Linked DNA regions of Homo sapiens. The protein of the gene in region 1 purifies or fractionates together with the protein of each later gene. This does not show direct contact. Each region holds a gene or a part of one and is shown on either strand. Other genes may lie near its edges.

What was found.
Region 2: the proteins of GRAMD2A (region 1) and TUBA8 purify together in Homo sapiens (affinity purification with mass spectrometry; one large-scale study listed by BioGRID and IntAct). This does not show direct contact.

What each region holds. Positions count from the first base shown.
Region 1 is NC_000015.10:72,159,770-72,163,580, reverse strand, and holds the end of GRAMD2A (GRAM domain-containing protein 2A), read left to right. Parts: intron 1-104; coding exon 105-315; intron 316-1,203; coding exon 1,204-1,308; intron 1,309-1,568; coding exon 1,569-1,572; 3' UTR 1,573-3,775; downstream 3,776-3,811. UniProt on the Homo sapiens protein: Participates in the organization of endoplasmic reticulum-plasma membrane contact sites (EPCS) with pleiotropic functions including STIM1 recruitment and calcium homeostasis.
Region 2 is NC_000022.11:18,113,551-18,117,361, forward strand, and holds part of TUBA8 (tubulin alpha-8 chain), read left to right. Parts: intron 1-3,811.

The DNA.
Region 1 (3,811 bases):
CTTGCAAAGGCCAGACTTTCTGTCTTCCCAGTTCCATAAAAAGGGCTCACCACAGCCAGCAGGGCTTCTGAGAGCTGATTTTTTTTTTCTCCCAATCCATAAAGAAAAGTCAAGAGCCCAAGTAGCTTCAGAAAATGGTGGGAGGTGGGCATGGCCCATGCCAGGCTGGGGTCCTGCCTGCCCTAAGAAGATGCCGAACTGCTCTCCCACTGCAAAGAATGCTGTCTATGAGGAGGATGAGCTGGAGGAGGAGCCCAGGAGCACTGGGGAGCTGAGGCTCTGGGATTACCGGCTCCTCAAGGTCTTCTTTGTGCTGTAAGTGACTATACTGGGGAGGGGGACAGACCCACCTGCATGTCTAGGTGCTTGGAACAAGGGCCTTGGAGTGTGGGGAATTCACTATTCAGAACCAGGGGGAAGTTTCTGAGTCAAATTCAAGCTCTTGGGTGGTATCTGAAGGCCATGTGGCACGCCCTTCTGTAGCAAGAGAAAGGATCTCCAGTTTTTATTCTTGAAACCCTGTAATTTAGGGTTAAGACTATTTGGTGGAGAGGGGCAGGATATGGAGATGTTGAGAAGAGGAAAAGGATTTGGGAGAAGGAGGGCCAGGAAAATTGGAGAGAGAGAGGAAAAGCTTGGCCTCGCCACTGCCCACCACTAGGGCAGCTTCTGGAACCCCTGACTTGTCTCTACCTCTGTCTAAGGACCAGTAGAGCAGGGAGCATCGTGGGAAGTGACATGAACAGCCAGCCCCTGCTTTCCCTCACCTTAGCTCATCAGCCTCCTCTGGCTCGGCTGGCCGGGTTTTGACCATCAACATCAGCACCTGCTGGGGGAATGGGCCCACCGCCTAGGGGGTCATCATCATGACCTCCCAGAGGAGGCACAGGAAGGACCACCATGGCTGGTGAGAGAGAGGGTAGGATGACTGATCTGGCTGTCTGGCCAGAGCTCCCCCCAGAGCTCAGCTGAAGGGCCCAGAGCTCTAGCTGGGCTGTAAGGACACTTCCATGGGGACAAGTCTGAAGACCCCTACATGGTGTCTGGGAAGAAAGATGCTGAGGCCTGAACTGGCTGCAGGACAAAGGGCTCTTTAATTCTTCCAACTGCAGGGGTAGCTTGGTCCCCACTATTTCCGGTGAACTTCCAGAAATGCTCTTTCTGTGGAAGAAATATTTAACTCCGTATTGCCGCTTTCTTCAGGATCTGCTTCCTGGTCATGTCCTCATCCTACCTGGCGTTCCGTATTTCTCGGCTAGAGCAGCAGTTATGCTCCTTGAGTTGGGATGACCCAGTCCCTGGGCACAGGTGAGGCCTTTTCTCTTTCTAATGCCTTTGATATTGAGGGTTGAGGACAGGAGCCAAGAACCTCAGGCCAGGCTGCCTGGCTGGACTTGGTCCTGTTTTGAGCTGGCTTCTGACCCTAAGCAAGGTTGGGCAGCGTGCAGGGTACACCAGTCCCACCCTGGCCCACTCTTGGGGGAAGTAAAGTTATCACTGGCCCTTCTGCCCACGTCCGTCTGCATTCTGGGCCCTTTCCCTGATGTGGACATCTTTCCTGTGTGCAGGTAACAGCCACTTGGCCTTTGTCCCCATTCCTTCTCCAAGAAGAATGTTCTGGGTGCTAAGTCTCCACCAATGATCCCTGTGGTTTATGCTGCTGCTGTGCTAAGACTGCCTATGAAGGAAAATATTCCAGATCCCTCCTCCTCCCCGCAGCTCTTCTCTTCCCTCTATGAGAGATCTGAAGTACGTGTTTACAAAGTAACTGGCTTCTACAATTTTTGGACTCAAGCAAAAAGCCAGATTTTTTGGAACCAACTGAGGAATTCTGTACACAAAGCTTCAGCAAACACTTAGAGAAAACAAACAAACAAACAAACTGGGTCCTTGGAAACAGTTCTGGCACACAGGCAGAACACTGGAGGCCACCTCAAAGGACAGAGGCCATGCTTTCGCATTTGGAATGTGGCTCTGCCACACAGCTCACTCCTATGGTGGGGTCAGAGGTCAGAACACAAACCACCCATGTGGGCTCTGCTCCCTCCCAACACTCTGTGTTCCCACAGGGCTTCTCTGCGGGCAGCCAGGCACCTGTCAGGCTTGGGCAGGGGCCTGCTGAGAATCTGTGAATGCAGAGGGGAGGGCTCATGGCCAGGATTCCAGCCAGAGATGAATTTCCATGCTCTGGGCCAGGGCTCTGTGCCGGCCCCTCATGAGGTGGCTGGCTGCATTATGGGGAGATGCTGCCCACGGCGGAGATGGTGGCAGTGGCTGTGAAGAACAGAGGTACCTGAATTCTGTGTCCTCAGCTGTCACTTTCCGGTGAGACAAGTGGAGCAGGGCCTTTGATCACTGTGGTCACAGACCTGGTACTGGGTTTTGCCCTTGTGTGCTCAAACATTTCTAAGGTGTCCCAAGCCCTGGAAATAGGGAAGGGAAGGGTGGAGGCTTGGATCTGAGGTCTTGCTGTCCACTCCCTGCCTGCCTGCCCGCATCTCAGGCATGGCCAACAGCAGCCCGTTGAGGGGGGCTTGTCTGGACAGTTGCGTGTGATGGTGTTGAGCCATCACAGGGCAGAGGTCACTTGTGTCACCCCCATAGTCATTGGGTTGCAGGCCATGGAGGAGGGACCTCCACTCCATGGGGCCTATTCTCCATTAAGGTGGAAGTGTCCACTGTGGGCCTAGCACAGTGCAGGAACCAGGCCAGGGGGTCTATCTCATACCTCTGGGGACAGGAAAGGTAGAGGATGAGGAGGTTGGACGTGGTGGTGGCTTTGCCTTGGATATTCCTCTTCCTCTATCAAGGCCTTCTCTTCTTCTCTGTGTCCCACAACTCTGGCCTCATCGCCCTGGGACTCCCATCTGCTAAGATAGTGGCTTTGGAGGTTCTGGAAGGGCTTAGTGAGGAGGCCAGAAGTATCAGGGAAAGTTGCTGGTGATGGGGTGGGCGGTGTCAGAAGCAGCCACTGTTTTCCCCTCTTCAGACACTGAGAGATTAATCAGGGAATGAAATCCAGGTGGAAATTATTTATTGTGAAGCAGACGACTGTCTGTCCTGTTTATGACAAACCCAAATGAGAATTGGAGGGACTACCAGTAAGTGGTCTCTTCATGCTCTCCCCATCCCAGTTTTTAGGATGAAATTTAGAGCCTGGCCTTTTGTGTTGCTTGCACCAAATCTGTATGTCTCAGGTGAAACTCACTGTTCCATGAATGGTCATCCTTTTTTTTTTTTTTTTTTTGGAACCAGCCCCTTTCACCCTTTCATCCGTCTTTTTTTTTTAGGAAAATAACCCTTCTTGCTTCAGCACTTCTCCCTGGTCCTTGCTGAAAGACAGAGATAAAAATCCATTCTCTGAGCCTTGCTTGGTTGTCAGAGGCCATGAGAGGTGCCAGTTATAGGTGGATGTGCCAAGATGCTGGTGAACTTGGTCTTCAGCTATACCCAGGCTCAGAAAGGGCAAGAGCCATGCTGCAGCGTAGGTGACTTTGGAGGTGCACTTGGGGCCCAGGGCTTTGAGTGTTGCGGGTGTGCCTGTCCCTCCAGATAGTGCTCTGTTTCTCTCTGTTGTCCCCCTGCCTGGTCCTCTGGGGCCACTGTGCTTTCTGCTGTGTGCATTTATAAATGATGTGTATTTTATATAGACCTGCTTGCATTGGCTGATGCTCCTCTAATTCCCTGAGTTTGATTCAACCACCCTTGGGTTGTTTTGCTATGGCCTTAGCCTTTGAAAATATTTTAAAATAAAAAACTTGATTTTTCTAGTGTATTATGGTATAGAAAGTTCATTTTTATCCTCTGACTA
Region 2 (3,811 bases), on another chromosome or scaffold:
TGGAGAGCACGAAGGAGCCCGTCTCCCTGCAAAAATGGGCAGTTAGAGGGTTCTGGGGGCCAAATGGACACCCTTCTGCCTGCAGCCTTCTGCAGTCTCCCCATGTAGACAGGCATGGCCAAGCTCTGTGGAGTTGATAGGTGTATTCTGACCTCAGAGCACTGTGTGGGCTCCCAGGGGCTGCAGGTCACTGCTGCCTCCTCCTCCCCTCCCATCACAAAAGGCAGGTTTCCCGAGAAGCACTGGGCGCATGCCTCCGAGTGAGGGGCCTTGGCTCACAGGGCAGCGGCTGGGGCAGAGCTGCTGGATTGGTGAGTCCATTGGGAGCCCCCAGCCTTGGGTCAGGCCCATACAGAGCTTGGGGTGGGGGTTAATGCCACTGTTGAATGTGCTTTCTCCTAGTGACCTTCAAAGGGAGATGAAAGTTAAAAATAATTTTGGTGGGGGAAATAGCTGGTGGATAGCGGGCCAGTGATGGGGGTGGGCAGGAGGATGTGGCACTGTCGGGGGGAGGAAGCAGACCAAATGCTCCTTTTCCCTCAAGCCGCAAGGGACGGACAGCACTATCTGTGGCCTTTGTGGTTGGCATTTCCCCTGCAGTGTCTTCCTGTTAGGAGTTCTCTCAGATAATAAGCTGCAGAAGAGAGCAGGAGATGGAGCAGGCACTGTGTGCATCGGATTGAAACTCCTAAGTGTCTCTTGCACCTGCCCCAGTGCCAGCCACAGCCCAGGCCTTCAACGCCCTCCGGCCTCTTATGCTGGAAGTCTCCTTAGCAGATGGCCTCATGGCCAGAGCTGGCCTCCTGTGAGCTCTGTTGCTGCCCTAACTGCAGTGCCTATCATCTGAGCCCCTCTCGCGAGCCACCTTCACTCGCTAAAGTGAATTTAGGCCGACTTTGTTTTTGCTGTGTCTGGCTTGCTATCTATTCTTTGTTATGAGTGATCTCAAATATGCCCTATGATCGAAGAGTTCTGAGCAGAGAGAATTCAGCAGCCCTTCAGGAGCCACATCTGTCCTTACTTTAATTACCCCTCTGTGACACTGTGGGCCTGCTTTTCACTTGCCATCCCTGACCTAGGTCCTAAGATATATGTGATCTATTTTATCCCAGCCTGACAACTAGAGATAATTCGGTGTAATCACATGCTTCCTGACAGCAACTGGGGCATGAGAGCACAGGTGGTCAGGGAGTGTGGGTGGTGCCAGGCTTTCACAGGGCACACACTGTGGTCCACGTCGGCCCCTCTCCCAGATGATATGCCACTTTTACTGTCTTGTGATACTTGGAAATAGTATCACAAGACAGCCTTTTTAAGGCTTCAAAGTCTCCTTTTGCCAAGGATGGTGATTAGCTTATCTTAGTCCTCTGAGAACAAAGCAAAAGGAAATGACTACTATTAAAATAGAATATAAGAATGATGTAAAAAAAAAAGGGCTTCTTGCAGCAAAATTATAAAAGGGCTGCAAAGTTCTAGAATTTCTTTTATTGATGCTCTGCAAAACACAGGCACTGGGCTCATGCCTCCCAGCGAGGGGCCTTGGCTCACAGGGCAGTGGCTCCCCAGGCGGAGTGTTCACAGGTGGCCCAGATGTCTCATTGGCCCTGCCCTTCCTCAGCCTGCGCTCCGGACAGACTGGGCAGTGTGCGGGAACCACCCTGCGTTTTACTGCCTCTTGTTCACACTGCTCCTGCATCCACCTGAACTGCCCCAGATCATCTTGGCCGGCTGCCTTCTTCAGGGTCCCTGCGAATATTCCTCCTTTAGGAAACCAAGCTAGAAGATGTCTCCTTCTCCTTGGAACTCCCTCTGCACTTGACCCGTACACTTCTTAGGCCCTGGCCGCTGTCCTTGTTGGATGGACTGCAGCCCCTCAGGGAAGGTTTTCATTCCAGTCCTCCCTGTGTTAATTGAGCACCTGCTACATTCAAGCACCGGGCTCGGTACTGGGGATTCCTTGAGTGAAACAAAGGTTCCTTGCCCTCACAGAGCTTACGTTCTCTACTAGAAAGGTGCGAAAATGAACAGGCAGCTATAATACGGTGTGATGATTACAATGACAGGAATGAAGGGGATGGGGGAGCACATGGCAGGGCCCTATGCTGGCTTGGGGTTTTGCAGACTTTCCTTAGGAAGTGACAATTAACTGGATACCTGAAGGATGAATGAGAGTTAGCCCAGTAACCTCACAATGCTGTCTCGAATGCAACCACACAAAAAGATTTGCTGTAGAAATGAGTAGGTGCCTTTTGTAGCTATCCCAGCGTGAGGTCTGTGTGAGAAGTGGCATGCTTTTCATGAGGAAGGGACCTCCTTGGTCCCTCCACCTCCCTCCTCTTCACCCCCCAGAAGAAGTTGGGTGGGACAGGCTTCTGCAGCAAACAAGGGACCCCCTCCCCTCACAGGGACCAAGGAGGACAGAACTTGTCTGAGCTCTACAAGCCCAGATTGAAAATAGAACTGAGAGAGACAGGAGCAGTGTGAGTGACAGGCATGTGCTCTGATTGGCTAGACAGAGGAATCTGAAATATGAGTTTGGAGCGGGCACATGACTTAAATATCCTCTGCTGGGTCAGCTTCCCCTTGCCCCCAACCCCAGCTGCACACGTGGGCCCTGAGAAGCGGACTTCTGGTTCTGTCAGAGAAAGATGACCCATTTTCAAAGAGGCCGCCCCATGAGCCATTCGCCATTTCGCTCTGCACAAGAGACATTTCCTGTTTGGAGTTCTGCTATCCGAACTTGGTCTTGCATTGGCGCAGATGTGGGCACACCCCAGGGCCCTGGGAGTTCAGAGCTGCAAGTGAGGCAGGAGGCCATGTGGCCTAAAAGAAAGAAGTCAGGCCCGGGTCAGCAGCCCTGGATTCTGGTCCAGGCTCTTTTGCTGCTGCAGTGCTGTGACATACTGAATTTGTCCCTTTTCCTCTCTGAGCTCAGCAGTTTCATCTGTAAAATAATGGAGAGGGAATCATATTAGGTGATCCATGAGGCTGGCCCAGCTCTGGTATCGTAAATGTTTGTAGCCAATACAACATCCCTGGTTATGATAGAAGGATGCCCTTGACTGGCCCAGCTCTGGTATCCTAAATGTTCGGAGCCGATATAACATCCCTGGTTATGATAGAAGGATGCCTTTTCTTAGACGTGAGGATGCGTCCCACGGGCTTCAGCACTGGGTCTGCTCTGTGGAACTTCCAGGCCGAAGGCTGGGGAGGGTAATGGGGCAGCATGGCTGCAGGAGTCGAGCTCAGTGCCTGAGCCGGGAGCTCGATGCGGGAGCTGTGGGCTGCTCCTCCTCCCTGCTAGGAGCAGGTGCAAGAGGCCTGCAGAGTGCTGGGGCTGGGCACGGACCTCACAGTGCCATGAAGCCTCGTGCAGCTTTGAATTTCACTTGTGATTTCTTCATGGAACTTCAAAGCCCTAGCAATGTAGGCGCGTAGTCAATTATTATTTGAGTAAGTGACTGCGTGCAATGGCCCAGGATAAGGGGGTTCTGGAGAGGGCAGTCCGTGCTCCTATTCTTTCTCTGTCTTCTTTATTATGATTTTTGCTTTTTACTATGAAAAATTTTAAGCCTTCAGAAAAGTAGAGTGATATGCCACCCATATACCTATTATCTAGATTTAAGAAGAAGAATGATTTTTCCATCTGTTATTTGCTGTGTTTGGGAAGGATTTTAAAGTACAGACGTCATGACATTTTACCTCTAAATGCTTCGGATGCAACTCTAAAAAATAAGGATGTTTTCATACTTAACCACATTTTTATGAATACGCTGAACAAAGCAAATCAGTTTATTTGTCCCCCAAATAT